Regions from separate parts of the Homo sapiens genome. Here region 2 is linked to region 1. Evidence: fine-mapped expression QTL. Tissue or cell type: atrial appendage. Region 1 holds a variant in brackets; the other region holds the start of a gene. All regions are shown on one strand. Distances are between the middles of the regions.

Region 1 (8,100 bases):
TTATGCAGAGTTTCTCAAAGTATGTTCCATGGGCCTCCTAGGACCCAGGGACCTTGTTCAAATGCAGTCTCTGCTCTAGGCTCCCACCGAATCAGGCTCTGAGGCGGGAAGTCTGCGGTTTCTCTAGCTCCCCAGATCTCTGCACACGTCCCTGCATTGTAGTGGAGACAGGCTCAGAGAGGATGACTTGCCTAAGGCTCATCACAGGGCAGAGCAGCCCAGGGCTGGGCCCCAGGTCCTGACAGCCCAGTCCAGGGGTCCCACTGCTCCACTACACAGTGGATGGTGACAGTGTCACAGTGTCACAGTGGATGGTGACAGTCAGGTGCTGGCGAGGACATGGGAGAATGTTTACTGTCCAAATGTACTCATCAGGGATGGAGTGAGTCCAGGCAGTCCTGGGAGGATTGCTAGCTTCTTTCCTGTGAAGGTCAAGCACACACTCGGGTGGGCAGGCAGGTGTGGGGGTGGCAGAAGTCTGCCCCAGCATGGCTGTCGGCCAGCAGGAGTGCCTATTCCACCCTAAGCAGGCCAGGGACTTGGCTGGAGAGTAGAAGCCCTGAAGCTGCGGGGGGTCGGGGAAGGAAGGGAGTGAGGGTTGCCAAAGACACTGAAAAGACTCTGGTGGGGCCCAAGGCCCAGATTTGGGGTTTGGGGTCCCTGAGCAAGCATCCCAGCCCAAACTTACTGCTTGAGATTTCCTGTAAGTTGTTTCAGCTATGGGATCAGGACCAGGACCCACTGGGCACCTAAGACAATGGCTTACATGATGGGTTTGGAGAAGTTCCTAGAAGGCTTTTTCTGCATCCCCTGAAGCATCCCTCTCCAGGTGCCCTTTAAAAACACGTAATCCCTGGGAGGGGTCATGGTGCATATCACCGCTCCTTGGGGAGAACCCAAAGATGGGCGGGCACCTTTCCTGTCAGAAAGAGCAGAAGGGCTTGGGCTCGGAAAAGCAAGAAGCCTCGCAGGCTTCCAGGGCTGGGCCTGAGCAGGGCTCACTGGGGGCCCAGGCTGCCCCTCAGCTCCACCTTCCCTTCCTCCCTCCCTGCCAGAGCCAATGAGGATAGGCCCCCTACCTTCTCCTCCCTCCCGGGGGCTCCTTAGCCAGGAGTTTCATGCCAGGGAGGAAGTGGAAGGACTCCTTTAGGGGGTCCTTAAGACATCTCCCCATCCCTGGCCTCAAGGCTTGGGTTTGGCTGGACCTACCCTCCTAACTCCAGATCTCTCTGGCACCAGATTCCCAGCCCAGGGGAGACACCTGAGAACCCCCCAGATGGTGACACACCTCTGTGGTCCTCTGTCAGGGACATAACCTCCCAGCACAGATTTGCAAACTCCCTGCTGCAGGCACAGGCAGGGCTATCGGGCCCCAGGTGTGGCTCCCCTGCCTTGGTTCAGGGAGTGGAGACACAGTTGCCCACTGCTCCCCACCCCACTGCCAGGCCTCTTCTGCCCCCATGGGTCCTGGGGTGGGGGAGCCTTGGGAGTGAAGAATGCCTCTGACCCAGATTCTTCAAGCAGCCTCTGAGCTCAGAGGAAGAGTCTGCCTCACGGCAGCCTCCCTGGGGTCTAGCTGTCAATCGCCCAGGAAGAAATACCCAGCGCAGGACCCGGCGGGGAGCTGGCCTTCTCTGTCTTCCCAGGTGCAGCAGAGCGAGTGTAAGGAGCTGTCTTGGGCCTGCCCAGCCTGGTGCCCTGCGGGGGACTGCTGGCACAGGACTGTGACTGGGCTTCAGCTCTGTCTGAAAATCTTTGCTCAGAGCACCTCCCTAGTTTGATCTGATACCCCGCCTGACCCTGCCAGAGTCCAGAGGTCACGGCGGCCAGCCCCTGCCTCCGGGAAGGTTATTCCAAATGCTCCCACAGCCCTGACCCTTCCTGTTGCTTTGTCCCTGCAGCCCAACTCCTCTTTCCGACCGCCGCAGAAAGACAACCCCCCAAGCCTGGTGGCCAAGGCCCAGTCCTTGCCCTCGGACCAGCCGGTGGGGACCTTCAGCCCTCTGACCACTTCGGATACCAGCAGCCCCCAGAAGTCCCTCCGCACAGCCCCGGCCACAGGCCAGCTTCCAGGCCGGTCTTCCCCAGCGGGATCCCCCCGCACCTGGCACGCCCAGATCAGCACCAGCAACCTGTACCTGCCCCAGGACCCCACGGTTGCCAAGGGTGCCCTGGCTGGTGAGGACACAGGTGTTGTGACACATGAGCAGTTCAAGGCTGCGCTCAGGATGGTGGTGGACCAGGGTGACCCCCGGCTGCTGCTGGACAGCTACGTGAAGATTGGCGAGGGCTCCACCGGCATCGTCTGCTTGGCCCGGGAGAAGCACTCGGGCCGCCAGGTGGCCGTCAAGATGATGGACCTCAGGAAGCAGCAGCGCAGGGAGCTGCTCTTCAACGAGGTGGGAGGACAGGGTGGGACACAGACGGGGGCGTTGGGGATGGGCAGTGAGCAGCCAGCCAGGCTGGACATCTGTGAGCAGGGGCAGTGGGTGGCCATGCGTCTGGGCACTGTGCCTGGCACTCAGGCCCCCGCCTGCCCCCAGGTGGTGATCATGCGGGACTACCAGCACTTCAACGTGGTGGAGATGTACAAGAGCTACCTGGTGGGCGAGGAGCTGTGGGTGCTCATGGAGTTCCTGCAGGGAGGAGCCCTCACAGACATCGTCTCCCAAGTCAGGTGGGCAGCTGGGAGGGCTGGACCCTGAGTGCAGGCTGCCCTCACCATGGCCCTGCCAGGGCAATGTGGTCTTCTGCCTGTGGCCCAGAAGACTTGGGATGCCTGGGCTCCCCTGCCTGCTGGGGTAACTGAGACCCAGGGGTCTTGGGAGTGGAGAAGAGAAGGATAGCTTCTAGCCAAAGCTCAGGCCCCAGTTTTCACCAGGGCTATGGCCTGACTGTGCTGCCAAACAGATTGCCTGGGAGCTGTGGGGCCTAGCACCAGGGACTCCTACTCTGCTCAGCCACCCCACGACCTGCCAGAGCTAACGTTCTCTTTCATCGGGTGGCCCCACCTTCCTGTCCAGGCTGAATGAGGAGCAGATTGCCACTGTGTGTGAGGCTGTGCTGCAGGCCCTGGCCTACCTGCATGCTCAGGGTGTCATCCACCGGGACATCAAGAGTGACTCCATCCTGCTGACCCTCGATGGCAGGGTAGGTCCCATCCTGTCCCTGGCACAGCCACGCTCCCACTTCCTCCTGATCCACCACTCACTCCCTTTTCAACCGCAGGTGAAGCTCTCGGACTTCGGATTCTGTGCTCAGATCAGCAAAGACGTCCCTAAGAGGAAGTCCCTGGTGGGAACCCCCTACTGGATGGCTCCTGAAGTGATCTCCAGGTCTTTGTATGCCACTGAGGTAACCGTTCCCTCCACCCCCCAGACCTCCCAAAAGCAACTTGGCAACTGGCAGCTCTTCTGCTGTGGCCCCTCCAGTGAGCTCACCAAAAGCAGCCCTGGTTTTCAGAGTCCCACCTAGTCAACACCCTTCCCCCTTTCGATGGGGCTGCTCTTACCCAGTGACTTTGCTGCCAGGAACGAGTCCTGCAAGTGCTTTCCTCAGCTCAAGGGCAGAATGGGGTATGGCCGGGCCTCCTATGTATGATGGCCTTTCTCTGAGTGACTGACAGCTGTGTCCCTATAGGCAGTGGTCACTCATGCAGGCAGTAACTGGCCACAGGGCAGGTGACCAGGGGAGGAAGGAGACAGACCCACCAAGGAGAGCTGGGGCCAGCTGTCCCCCCTCCACCACTGCTGCCACCAGAACGCAGCTACCAATGGGCCAGGGTCTGGCCATGGGGTCAGGGACATTTTCCTCCTGCAGGTGGATATCTGGTCTCTGGGCATCATGGTGATTGAGATGGTAGATGGGGAGCCACCGTACTTCAGTGACTCCCCAGTGCAAGCCATGAAGAGGCTCCGGGACAGCCCCCCACCCAAGCTGAAAAACTCTCACAAGGTCAGTTGGCACACAAGGGTGCGACCTCGCAGACCCCATTCCTCCTGAGGCAAGGGGACCAGAACCTGGGCTCCCAGCATCTCCCTTCCACTGAAGCCACAGGGTCTGGGCTCCTGGAAAAGGCTCCTCTTTCCCCACACAAAACCCGCACCTGGGTGTGGAGCCGCATCTACGCACAAGTTCGCATGTGCGCTCCGACAAGTCGCCTCCCACGGCTGTGGCAGGAGAGTTGCTGCTTGGCAGAAGGGTTGCTGCTTGGCAGGCACTGGTCGGAAGCCCAGTGGGGCCCATGAGCAGGGAAAGCCAGGACACCAGCAATCCCTGCTGTCCAGGGAGGGATCCGGAGAAGCTTCACTGAGCACAAACCCTTCTAACCCGTGTCGGGAGATCCATACCATGATTCGATGTCCCTGTCCATCACGGCGAGTCGGCTCATGCTCCATCGTTGCACACCCCGACACAGCTAAGCCACAGCGTTCCCCTTAAAGCCAGTATAAGTGCATGGAAGTGTATACATGTAACCCTTTTTGCCAAATCGGCCCCAACCCCGCAGGCCTTACTGTGGACGCCCCCTGCTGGCAGGTCAGCACGGGGCTGCTAAGTGGCACCGCCATCTGGTGGCCAAAACAAGAAATGTCTCAGAGGGCTGAAGCCTCTCCTCTAAAATAGCAAAAAAACAAGAGTTCTGTGGCCCCAACACAAAGCTGGATGGGAGGACCAACAGGAAACATCTTCCAAGACAACTGGTCCTTGGAGCCCGCACCGCTAACCCCAAAATTAGCATATAAAGATCTCCAGTTGGCTAATTCCTCAGAGGATGTAGCCTTCTGCCCAAGACTCAGCCTCATCCCAAGATACTGGCTCAAAATGAACCAAGATAAGCCCTTGC[T/C]TTAGACTCTTAAGGCCTAGAGCAACAAAGAAATCTTCCTTTTCAGGTCTCACTTTATTTTCTATTTTTCAGAGTACTTCCTCATCCTTGACTTGTTTGTTTCTGTTGTTGTTGGTTTTTTTTTTTTTTTTTTTTTTGGAGATGGAGTCTCTCTCTGTTGCTCAGGCTGGAATGCAGTGGTGCGATCTCAGCTCACTGCAACCTCCGCCTCCTGGGTTCAAGCAATTCTCCTGCCTCAGCCTCCTGAGTAGCTGGGATTACAGGCACGTGCCACCATGCTCAACTAATTTTTGTATTTTTAGTAGAGACAGGGTTTCGCCATGTTGGTCAGGCTGGTCTACGAACTCCTGACCTCGTAATCTGCCCAACTTGGCCTCCCAAAGTGCTGGGATTACAGGCTTGAGCCACTGCGCCCAGCGACCTGTTTTTAAAATCTCAAAAGCCCTATGTGGCAGACAGGGCAAGCATACTTTATCACTAGCCCATTTTACAGATGAGAAAACTGAGGCCTAGAGAAAACTGTGACTTGCCTGAGATCACGGATAGAGCCAGATCTGGATCACTGATGCCAATCCTCTGCCCCTTCCACAGAGCTATAGCATCTGAATGCTGAGAGCCTTGAGGGGGTGGGGAGGGACAAGGGAACAGGAAGTTAAAAAACCAGCGAATTCATGACTTTCAAACAATGATAAGTCCAGGCAATCAGGTCACCCCGAAGTGACTGCAAATTGTGGCTTCATCTTACTGCCCTGCCTCTACAGGTCTCCCCAGTGCTGCGAGACTTCCTGGAGCGGATGCTGGTGCGGGACCCCCAAGAGAGAGCCACAGCCCAGGAGCTCCTAGACCACCCCTTCCTGCTGCAGACAGGGCTACCTGAGTGCCTGGTGCCCCTGATCCAGCTCTACCGAAAGCAGACCTCCACCTGCTGAGCCCACCCCAAGTATGCCTGCCACCTACGCCCACAGGCAGGGCACACTGGGCAGCCAGCCTGCCGGCAGGACTTGCCTGCCTCCTCCTCTCAGTATTCTCTCCAAAGATTGAAATGTGAAGCCCCAGCCCCACCCTCTGCCCTTCAGCCTACTGGGCCAGGCCGGACCTGCCCCCTCAGTGTCTCTCCCTCCCGAGTCCCCAGATGGAGACCCCTTTCTACAGGATGACCCCTTGATATTTGCACAGGGATATTTCTAAGAAACGCAGAGGCCAGCGTTCCTGGCCTCTGCAGCCAACACAGTAGAAAAGGCTGCTGTGGTTTTTTAAAGGCAGTTGTCCACTAGTGTCCTAGGCCACTGCAGAGGGCAGACTGCTGGTCTCCACAGATACCTGCTGTTCTCAGCTCCAGCTTCAAACCTCGAGTCTCGAGAGGGCCACGGGGTGGTTTTTATGACCGGAATCCCGCTTCCTCCCTCACGTCTGATGTCCTGAAGGTGCAGTCCCACCTGTACAGCCCCTCCCCGCCCAGAACTGTGAATGGCCTGCTCCAGGCCATGGCTGGGGGCAGGGAGTGAGGGGACAATTTCTGAGTGAAAGAGAAAGAATGGGGTCGGTGGTGAAGGTGCTCTCACTTTACAGAATGGAGAGAACATCGTGTGTGTGTGTGTGTGTGTGTGTGTGTGTGTGTGTGTGTAAGGGGAGGAAAGCCACCTTGACAGCCCAGGTCCCTCCAGGTCACCCACAGCCAGTTTCAGGAAGGCTGCCCCTCTCTCCCACTAAGTTCTGGCCTGAAGGGACCTGCTTTCTTGGCCTGGCTTCCACCTCTCCACTCCTGTGTCTACCTGGCCAGTGGAGTGGTCCATGCTAAGTCTAACACTCCTGGGAGCTCAGGAGGCTTCTGAGCTTCTCCTGTACTGTGCATCGTGAGGGCCAGAGACAGGAATGTAAGGATTGGCAACTGTGTTACCTTTCAAGTTTATCTCAATAACCAGGTCATCAGGGACCCATTGTTCTCTTCAGAACCCTATCTGGGAGAGAAGGCGAACCACCTCCGGGTTTCCATCATGTCAAGGTCACAGGCATCCATGTGTGCAAACCATCTGCCCCAGCTGCCTCCACAGACTGCTGTCTCCTTGTCCTCCTCGGCCCTGCCCCACTTCAGGGCTGCTGTGAGATGGAATTCCAGGAAAGAACTTCAGGTGTCTGGACCCTTTCTATCTAGATAATATTTTTAGATTCTTCTGCTCCCTAGTGACCTACCTGGGGGCAAAGAAATTGCAAGGACTTTTTTTTAAGGGTCAGAGTTTTCAAAACAAAAGCATCTTCCCTAGAAATTTTTGTGAATTGTTTGCACTTGTGCCTGTTTTAAATTAAATTGAGTGTTCAAAGCCATTGGGCTTCCTGTGTCTCTGGGAGCGGAGACCGGCCGTCTTGGAGGGGGGTCTCCTGTGGCGGGTGAATCTCGTGTAGCCTCCCCTCCTCCCCACGTGAGCTCTCCAGCAGCCACACCACAGAACACCCAACTTCCCTGGTGGCCTGTGGACCCGAAAGGAGGGCAGAGAGGAAGGGAAACAGGAAGTGAAAGGCCCTTGGGAATGAAGGCGATGAAAAATAGACGGGGCTACTTCCCCAGGGGAGAAGAGCCCACAAGGAAAGCCAGGGCCCTGCGCTGCGTTTGCGGGGGGTGGCCGAAGTGGCTGACGACCACCCTGTGTGTCAGCTTCTCCCATCCTCTGCGCGCTCCTCACCCCCACCCCAGACCTCCAGCTGTCCATAGGAAGTGGTCTGAAACCGCTTCCAGTGGGAGAGCAGTCCCTGCCTCACTCCTCAGGACTGAGGGAGATGGTGTGGGGTTCAAAAAGAACGGAGCAGAGCCTGGAAACCAGGGAGCCTGGGCTTTCGTTCTGGGGGTGGGGAGGTGGATGAAATTATCTTGCAACTTCCAGCTCCCACACGGATTCCCGCACTTCCTTCCTGAGATCTCCCACTGCCCAGGATTCAGGAGCAAGCCAGGAGCAAGGAACCATGCAGCCTTTCTTTCACTCCCCAGTGCATTCACACCCTGACAGGTGCCCTGGTGCTGCGGCTGGCCCGGCCTGTCCCCCCAGCTCAGCAGAAGCAGCACCTGTGACTTACCTTCAGGAGCCAGCACAGTAGGACGGGCAGGGCGGAGGCTCACTAAGGCAGGGGCCTCCACAGGAGGCAAAGGCTCGGTCCATCTCTCCAAAGGGAGCCGAGGGTCAGGAGTGCTTGATAAGGCAAAGAGAGGCCAGTTCTCGCAACGGAATAATACACTGGATTTATTAACTATTCTTTGAGTTCTAACA
Region 2 (8,100 bases), 36 kb before region 1:
GGAGCTTGAGAAAAATCTCTTGAAGGTAGAGCCCCTGCTTCTGGCCTAGCTCTCCCGGAGGCGCAGGGCTGACGAGTGCCGCCAAGGTAAGACCAGCTCTGGAGTGTGGGATATACAGGCCTTCAGTGGCAACACCTGCTCATTAATCAAGCCCTTCCTTTCCGGAACCTGCCCTGGCTTGGGATGGTGGGAAGGAAGGAGAACAGAATCTGTTCCTCCCTTCCTGGCCCTGCGGTGAGAGGCGCTGACTAGTGTAGGTGGGTGGAGACAGGCCCATCAGAAGGCCTGAGTGAGGCACCCTCTGTACATGCAGCACAAGCGGGTGTGGAGTGTGGGGAAGCATCTAAAGATCTAGAAAAATTTGGCAGCAAAGGAATTTTACCCACACACTGGAGCCCTAGGCTTTGTTTCTAAAAGTTTTTATTATTCTTTAGGAAAACTTGGGAAGCACTAGTTTATGAAAATTTTTAGAACTTCATTGCTACATGGCCTTTCCAAACACATCCCCAGATGGTTTCTTTAAAACCATGCAGTGGGACAAGGTTGATATAAACAGTTGTTCCAGCTGAATCCAACTCACCAAAACGGTGCAGGTGAGGCAAATTACTTTTGAGACTGCAAGTACTGTATATGTCCATTAACAAAAACACAGTAAAAGACTTTAAGAAATTGTAAGGACACTGGCTTGACTGATTCATGCGGCTGCAAATCCCTGGGAGCCAAGATTCAAAGGCAGAAATGTCTGTGGTGACAGCACCACCACTGCCTTTGTCCAAATTACAGATCTGTCACACTCAGAGCTTGCTGCTAGCATGGGGCTGCCGTCGGCAGCAAAGGGAACTTCATGGATCTGTGAGGAGGAACAGCTGAGTTCCTGACTGCCTTTAATTTTCTCTGAGGCTTTGCTGAGTCACCTAATCTCTTGGGGCTGTGGTTTTCTCACCTGTAGAAGGAGGGACAGGGCTGATATCCCTAGAGTGCCTTTCAGCTCTGGGATTCACGCATTCTAAGGAGGGTGGCTAGAGCACAGAACCTCTAAAGATGTTCATTCATTCCTTCAACAAAGTTTACATGAGCACCTGCCATGTGCTAAGCACCAGGGCCGACCACTGGCCCAAAAACACAGGCATCTGCTGGCCTGCCCACTGCAGCAGCAGCCATACCTTTGCAGGCCGGTGGAGCCCCCCTTTCTACAGCCTGTGGAAAAAATGGTTCTAAATTTGCAGATCCTCTCATCAAATCAGGAAGTCAAGAAACATGATAGAATAGAGGAACTGGTCTCAGTTTGCACAGGCCATCAGTTTCACAAGACAGGAATCGAATATCAACAGTGGCTGATTATCACACTCAGGAATTGAAAATAATTAGAAAAAGAGGCAAAGATGCTGTGGCAATCATTGGCTGGTCCCCTTTGGTCTCCAGCACCCATTCCCCTTTGGTTTAGTAACAGCACCCTAACTTTCCTCCCTATATCGTGTGATAACAGAAGCACTCTCTCCAGGATACCCTCCCTGAGAGACAGGCATATGACCTGAGCCAGCCAATCAGACTCCTTCCCTGCAAGGATGCACTAGGTGGACAGCATGGTGGGAGCATCTCTCATCCAGGCAGGGGTGATCTGTGGGACTGCAGTCAGTCCTGTTGCTTAGAGACCCCAGGACTGCCATAGCTTCTGTCCTGGACTTGATTCTCCAGGCTAACAGAGAACCTGACTGATGCAGATTCAGGAGAGCTGGTTTGTTTAGTTCTCAGTTCCTTTCATGAAATGGCTATTATCTCTGCTAGCTACTATAGCAGAAATCTGGAAAACATGATTTTTCTTGATTTATGAAATTGTTGATGTTTCTTCAGGAATTTCCGCCTGCTTCTCATAAACTGGCAGAAACTTAGAAATGTTACATTTCTTAAAGAGAGTCATTGTAATTATTATCTGAATAAGATGATAGTGTTTTGAATTTAACGTAATAAACTCTATCTCCTGCCTTAGTGCCTTCACATCTTCATGTTGCCCCTCCCTCTAACAACATTTCTGAAAATTTGAAAGACATGAAGGAAGAAAAAGTGTTTTCCATATCCCCACATTGCCTTAAAGTGGACTTTGCAGAGGAAAATGTTCAAATATACAAGTTTTAGGTACTCTTCATAGCTCTTGGTTTTCTATTATTAGGGTTTGTTTGTTTGTTTGTTTGTTTGTTTTGAGACTGAGTCTCGCTCTGTTGCCCAGGCTGGAATGCAATGGCACAGTCTGCTCACTGCAATCTCCACCTCCCGGGTTCGAGCAATTCTCCGCCTCAGCCTCCTGAGTAGCTGAGATTACAGGTGCCCACCACCACACCCAGCTAATTTTTGTATTCTTAGTAGAGACGGGGTTTCGCCATGTTGGCCAGGCTGGTCTCGAACTCCTGACGTCAGGTGATCCACCCACCTCGGCCTCCCAAAGTGCTGGGATTACAGGCGTGTGCCACTGCGTCTGGCCTATTATTAGTTTTAAAAACATACATTCCTTTATTTTTACTTTTGTATTGTTTAAATACAACAGTACATGTTCACTGAAACAATGCAAGAGTGTAAAAAGTCCAAAGTGAAAGACCCCTCTCACCACCACTCCTATTTCCAAGGATAACCACATTGACAGTTTGCGGTTTAAACATACAGATATAGAAATATCTTTAAATAAAAAAACTTATATGAGATTATGCCATCTCATTTTCAAGTTAACATTGATAAACCTGGTCTTTTTGCTCAACTATCGTGGTCATCCTTCCTCATACATACGTATGTACATGCATACCGGTACACACATAGCTGGTACATACATACCGACTGACAAAACTCATTCATTTTAAGGCTGCAGATACTTCATTGCATGGGGATGTACCATCCTGTATAGATCTGTCACCCAATTAATCTGCCCAATTGATGCACATTTTGGTGGCTTCAAATTCTTTGCAGTTACAAACAGTGCTACCATGAATATTCTTATACAAATATCTTCAGGCCGATGTGCAACTATTTCTTAACTTGGATTCCTAGAAGTGCATTTGCTGGATCAAGTACATACACATTTTGAAATTTTGGTCAAGACTGTAAAATTGCCCTCCAAGAAGACTGTACCAATTCACTCTCCCACCTGCCATTTTTTTTTCACTGTATAATGACAGGGAGTGGTATATCCCTTTTGTTTTAGTTTGCATTTCCTGGATCATTCCTTAGTGAGACAGAGCAGAAGTGGATTATTTATAAGTTTACACACAAAATTACATTGAGATACAAAAAGAAGAAAAATACAGAGTTCCTCTCCAAAAGGAACTGATAACCTAGTTAAAGGGAAAATGTTTCATATTGACCACAAATTGAACTTTTTTTTTCTTTTGAGACAGAGTCTCGCTCTGTCGCGCAGGCTGAAGTGCAGTGGCACAATCTTGGCTCACTGCAACCTCCGCCTCCCGGGTTCAAGCAATTCTCCTGCCTCAGCCTCCCAAGTAGCTGGGATTACAGGCATGTGCCACCACGCCCAGCTAATTTTTGTATTTTTAGTGGAATGAGGTTTCACCATGTTGGCCAGGCTGGTCTCAATCTCTTGACCTCATGGTCCACCCGCCTCAGCCTCTCAAAGTGCTGGGATTACAGGCGTGAGCCACTGTGCCTGGCCACAAATTGAAATTCTTATGTTTAATGCCATGACATCTAACACTGCGTTCAATCAAAATGTCTACGCATGCAGCTTGAGACCTTTGCACAGAAGGTGCCTAGGGTCATGATTTGGGAAGATTAATCTGCCATCAGTGGAGGGGTGGATAAAAACTAATGTTTATTGGGATCAAGATGAGCAGTCTCTGTGCCAGAAACTTTATTCCTTTAATTTCCACAGCCCTGTGAGGCAGGTGAAATCATCCCCATTTTATGGATGAGGAAATTGAAGTTCAATTGGTTCAATAACATGCCAAAGGTCACTCAACTGATGAACAGTGGAGCTGAGATGCGGAAGACTGAAGACTCACAGCCTGGACTTTTAACCAAACACCACATGGCTTCGCTACAGAAGAAAGTTAGAAAGTTTTCAAAAATAAAATGTAGAGCCAAGTGCCACCTTGGATATAAGGGACTGGGGGACGGGAAGAGGCAAGAACTCCCAGGCTTCCCTCTGGCTGTCAATAGCTAGTGGGTCCTGGCAGTGGGAGCTGGGCCATCAGAGGTGGCGCCTGAAGTGGGGCAGGCACAAAATGGGTTTTCGGGCAAGCATTTGCCCAGGTGATGGTCAAAGCCACAGAAAAAAGGTGTTTTGATGGAGTGGTGGCTGAGTGTGGGGAGAGATGAGCAGGGGACCAAGCCTGGAGCTTGGGCAGCCCACGATTGGACACTAGGAGAAGAAAAGAAGCCAGTGGAGGAGACACTGAGGCTAGGGATGGGGAGGGCACTGTGGAAGGCTGGGCTCCACCTGGCGCTCCGGGGAGCTGGCAGGGGGGCACATCAAGGAGCTCAAGCTGCCTCACCAGCAAATGCCTCTGTTTCTGACCAGGGGCAATGAAATAAAGGGACCCGGTTGAGTAACTGGTTTCTGGTCCCTGCCAGCCCAGGAAGCCAGCACCCACCCTGCCTTACATCCCATGTGCCACTCTCAGCCTTCGAAGCAAAACCAGCTGAGACCAGCACCTGCCAGATCTGAATGCGCAGCTCCAAGTTCTGGGGGGTGGGGGTGGGGGTGAGCCAAGGAGGTCTGGCTTCTCTAGGGCAAGGGTAGGAAGGACAGCAGGGAGGCTCACCCTGAGCCCGGCAGGCAGCCCTTCCTCCTCCTCCCCTTCAGCAAAGAAAGGCAGATAAAAACGTGTTTTTATAAATAGCTCCAGCCCCAGCTGATTTGTAAATTCAGTGGGTTTTTTGTGTCAATGACATCACCTTCCTCCCCATGGCAACCCCCGACGATATCAAAATTGCCAAGCAACGTTGGAGCAGCTCGGCGCCCCAAACGAGCAGGTCGATGCCTGAGGATTTAATGGAGAAATCCCAAAGTGAGCCGGGGCGCGCGGTGGAGGAGGGGCGCGCCGCAGCCGGGGCCGCTGGGCCCTGATGGGCGGGAGCGGGGTGGAGCGGCCTCGCCTGCCAGGCAGCCCTGGGCGCGGGGCTCGGCGGCCACACTCTGGAGACAGCCACGGTCCAGGCAGGTGGGGGAGGGCGCTGCTCCCGTCCTGATGTGCCAGGAGCCGCCAGCAGCCATCCAGGTGACTAAGCCGGCCCACTAGCACTGAGTCACCGCCCGCCTCGAGCTGTTCTTGCTTCTCCTTTGCATCTGATTATTTTGGGAGCTGGAAACTTGGAGCTGCACCTGAGTCCCGCCCCTTCTAGCTCTCCCCTCCCTACCTTGGGCTCCAGGAAGATGGGACTTGCTGTGAGTCTGCTGCCACCCCCTAAAGATATGGAAGACGCTGTGGGGGCCAGAAGTGCCCGGGGGGCTGTGGCAGCAGGCAGAGTGCAATAGCAGATATGGTGGTCAGGCTGCCTGTGTGTGTCCTCTGGAGGTGTTGGGACAGAAGGGCAGTCTTGTCCGAGCTGACTGGAGTCCTCCCGGGCTGGCTCTGAACTCATCTCCCACGGGGATGTTTCGGTAAAGGAGTGGCTTCTGGGGTCGGAGTGGCATTTGGAGAGCGAGGCTGGATTGGCTTAGGCTGGCCTGGGCAGGTAGGTGGCTCTGTGTTGGGTGTGGACCCACGTGTGTGTGAGTGCGAGAGTGTGTAAGCCAGTGTGTGTGCCGTCCCCCTGCTGGGGACAGCAGCTGGGTCCAGCAGAGAGCTGGCTGGGGGCTTGACAGGAGTTTATCCTAACTGATGCTGGGTGGGCGCAGGCCCTGAGATGGGCGTCAGGGAGAGGGGACGCCAGACACACGGCCTGAGCAGGGTGAGGAGCAGCTGCCAGCCCCGGCAGGCCCAGGCCCTGTCTGGGTGCACAGGACAGAGACACAGCAAGATGCCCAGGTAGGAAGCCGTCCGGAGGGGCTGGCCAGGGTGAGAGCCCATCACTGGGGGGCTGGACAGCCCATCAGCTGCCCCTTCATTCTGGCAGGCCTGGGTACCAAGGAAACAGCTTCCTACCAAGAACCATGTCACTCTCTTATGCAGGGCCAGTCAGCACCCATGTGCGTCTCTGCTGAGCTCACAGGGACACATTCAGTGAGAAGGGTGCTGGCCAGGGTACGGCTTCCCCATGATCAGGACCCAGCGGGTGCCACCCTCAAGCCCCTGGTCCCCACAGGGCATGCCCCAGTGTGTGTCAGGAGGAGGGGGGAGGTCCCTTCTCCCCCACACAGCTGGCAGCTTTGCGGGCACCAGTGAGTAAGCTGCCAGAGGGAGGGAGGCTGTGTGCCCACAGTGGCAGGACAATACCAACCAGGAGCCTTCAAGAGAAGAGGCTGGGTGAGAAAAGCACTGAGGTTTTCTTTTCCTTTTTTTTTTTTTTTTTTTTTCTATTTTGCCTGAAGGGAGTGCCGCTTCCTGGGCTAGAGACAAGCACCAGCCTGCAGTGGAGAACGCAGGACCCCGCTGCCCAGAAGGAGCAGCCACGGTAAGGTCCCCACTGCCGCTGCGTGCTCCGGATTCCTGGGCTAGGGACGGGGGTGCCAAGGTGTCCAGGCTGCCTCCCACCTGGGACAGGGAGGCTAACTCCACAGCTGTGGGTTCCTGGGTCAAGGGGCTCCACTCCCCACCCGGCCTGCCACCTTCTTTCCAGATTGATTGTGAAACAGTCCAATCCCAGCTGGTCTCTGGCTCCCTAGCTAGAGGGAGAGGTGCTTGTTTCTACTCTTCCTGCCCCAGCTGGGCCAAGCCAGTGCCACCGGGACACCCCTATCCAAGGCCCCTCTCACTTTACCACCTCTGGGACATTTCCCTTGTGTATTCATTCCACAAATATTTAGGGAGCACTGCTGGGTCCCAGGCTCCAAGTCACACCCTTTGGCTGGGTTTGACCTGGCACAGATTCTGACTCTGAAACTCAGCATCAGGGCAGGTTCAGGGAGCTGCCTGGCCAAGCACGGTCACTCCTCACAGGCCTTGGTCTCCCCACCCCTGCTGCAGGGTGGATGACCTGGTCAGCTTTGGGGACATCGGGCCCAGTGAGCTCGGGTTTATAAAGCACTGGGCCCCACCGGGAAGCAAGGCTAACGTCTTGTGGTCTCCAGTTATCCTTTCCCTGGCATTGTACACCAAGAGGTTTGTGCCGTTCTGCCTGGGGTCTTCCTGAGGCTGGTTCTGGTGGGAACTGGGCTGCAGGAGGAGAGGATGAGCTTAGGAGCCGTGTGGCCCCCAGGCCTGGTGGGCCTGGGACTCAGCCCCACGGGAGCTCATCTAGCTGGGGTTGAGGCCTTTGGGGCAAGCAAGGAGTCCCCTCTGCAGGCAGGCTTCCCTGGCGGTTGTCCTGGCCCAGGCTTGGAGGTGGCACCTGGGAGCCCTAGTGACAGAGCGCCTGGTCAGGGAAGGGTCGGCACCAGAGGCAAGCCCTTCTGGGAGCAGCTGATTTGGATGGAAGCTCTGTGCACCTGAGAGGGGGAGTGTGGGGACTGCACGGCCTCTCCAGTGCCCCGAGGACAAACTGATGCTTTGTGAGTGCTCTGGGCCCTCCCGGACTTGCCAGACACAGGGAGGGTGCAGTGGGTGGGGTCTCCAGCCAAGGAAAGCCCGCTCTGTGCACAACTCCTAAGGATGACCAAAAAGTCCCCTGCCCTGGAGGAGCACATGTGCTCAGAGTCAGGAGGAACCCATAAGTGTCTCTCATGCCAGTGAATTCCCACACCTGGCTCCTGGATGAGGAGAATGACCCAGCTGTGGGGGTATCTCATGCTGCCTCACAAAAGGTGACTCTGTGCCTAGGAGTCTTCCATGCATGCAGAGCTGAGCAGGGGCTGCTGCCCAGTTGGGGTCAGAGGGGCGGAGGCTGTCGAGCACTAGGTAGACAGCAGGCCAGCAGCGGGCAGCAGGTTGGGCCAGGAGGGAGCAGAGAGTAGGGGCCAGGGCAGGCTGAGCAGGAAAGGAAAAGGCTGCCTGGGGTCCTGAGGGCTCAGGGAGGACTCCAGACAGCTGGCCTTCTTATGCCAGCCCGCTTCTGTGGGAG

Which allele goes with the higher level. Alleles are on the strand shown, and positions count from the first base shown. SD is a standard deviation of normalised expression in the study named.
With allele T in place of C in region 1, the expression in atrial appendage of the gene that starts at base 4,937 in region 2 is higher (small effect, 0.13 SD a copy in GTEx).

What was found. PIP is the estimated chance that this variant, and not a neighbour inherited with it, causes the effect.
Region 2: it holds the start of PAK6, and the variant in region 1 is fine-mapped to the expression of PAK6 in atrial appendage (GTEx, PIP above 0.99).

The regions. Positions count from the first base shown.
Region 1 is chr15:40,270,323-40,278,422 of GRCh38, forward strand. BUB1B-PAK6 (BUB1B-PAK6 readthrough) reads left to right here. Exons shown (of 10, transcript NM_001128629.3): 5 at 1,902-2,399; 6 at 2,544-2,677; 7 at 3,024-3,150; 8 at 3,229-3,354; 9 at 3,820-3,954; 10 at 5,605-7,165. The coding sequence ends at 5,772. PAK6 (p21 (RAC1) activated kinase 6) reads left to right here. Exons shown (of 11, transcript NM_001395430.1): 6 at 1,902-2,399; 7 at 2,544-2,677; 8 at 3,024-3,150; 9 at 3,229-3,354; 10 at 3,820-3,954; 11 at 5,605-7,165. The coding sequence ends at 5,772. It overlaps ANKRD63 (ankyrin repeat domain 63), which reads right to left. Exons shown (of 1, transcript NM_001190479.3): 1 at 8,050-8,100. Among named protein-coding and RNA genes, the nearest start is that of ANKRD63, 8.7 kb to the right of the region's middle. RefSeq lists enhancers at 2,392-2,893, 3,615-4,115. The variant T/C (reference allele first, on the strand shown) is at 4,844.
Region 2 is chr15:40,234,127-40,242,226 of GRCh38, forward strand. It overlaps PAK6 (p21 (RAC1) activated kinase 6), which reads left to right and starts at 4,937. Exons shown (of 11, transcript NM_001395430.1): 1 at 4,937-5,676; 2 at 6,473-6,555. The region is part of intron 1 of BUB1B-PAK6 (BUB1B-PAK6 readthrough); the gene reads left to right. It overlaps LOC107984763 (a long non-coding RNA gene), which reads right to left and starts at 5,575. Exons shown (of 3, transcript XR_001751506.2): 1 at 5,359-5,575.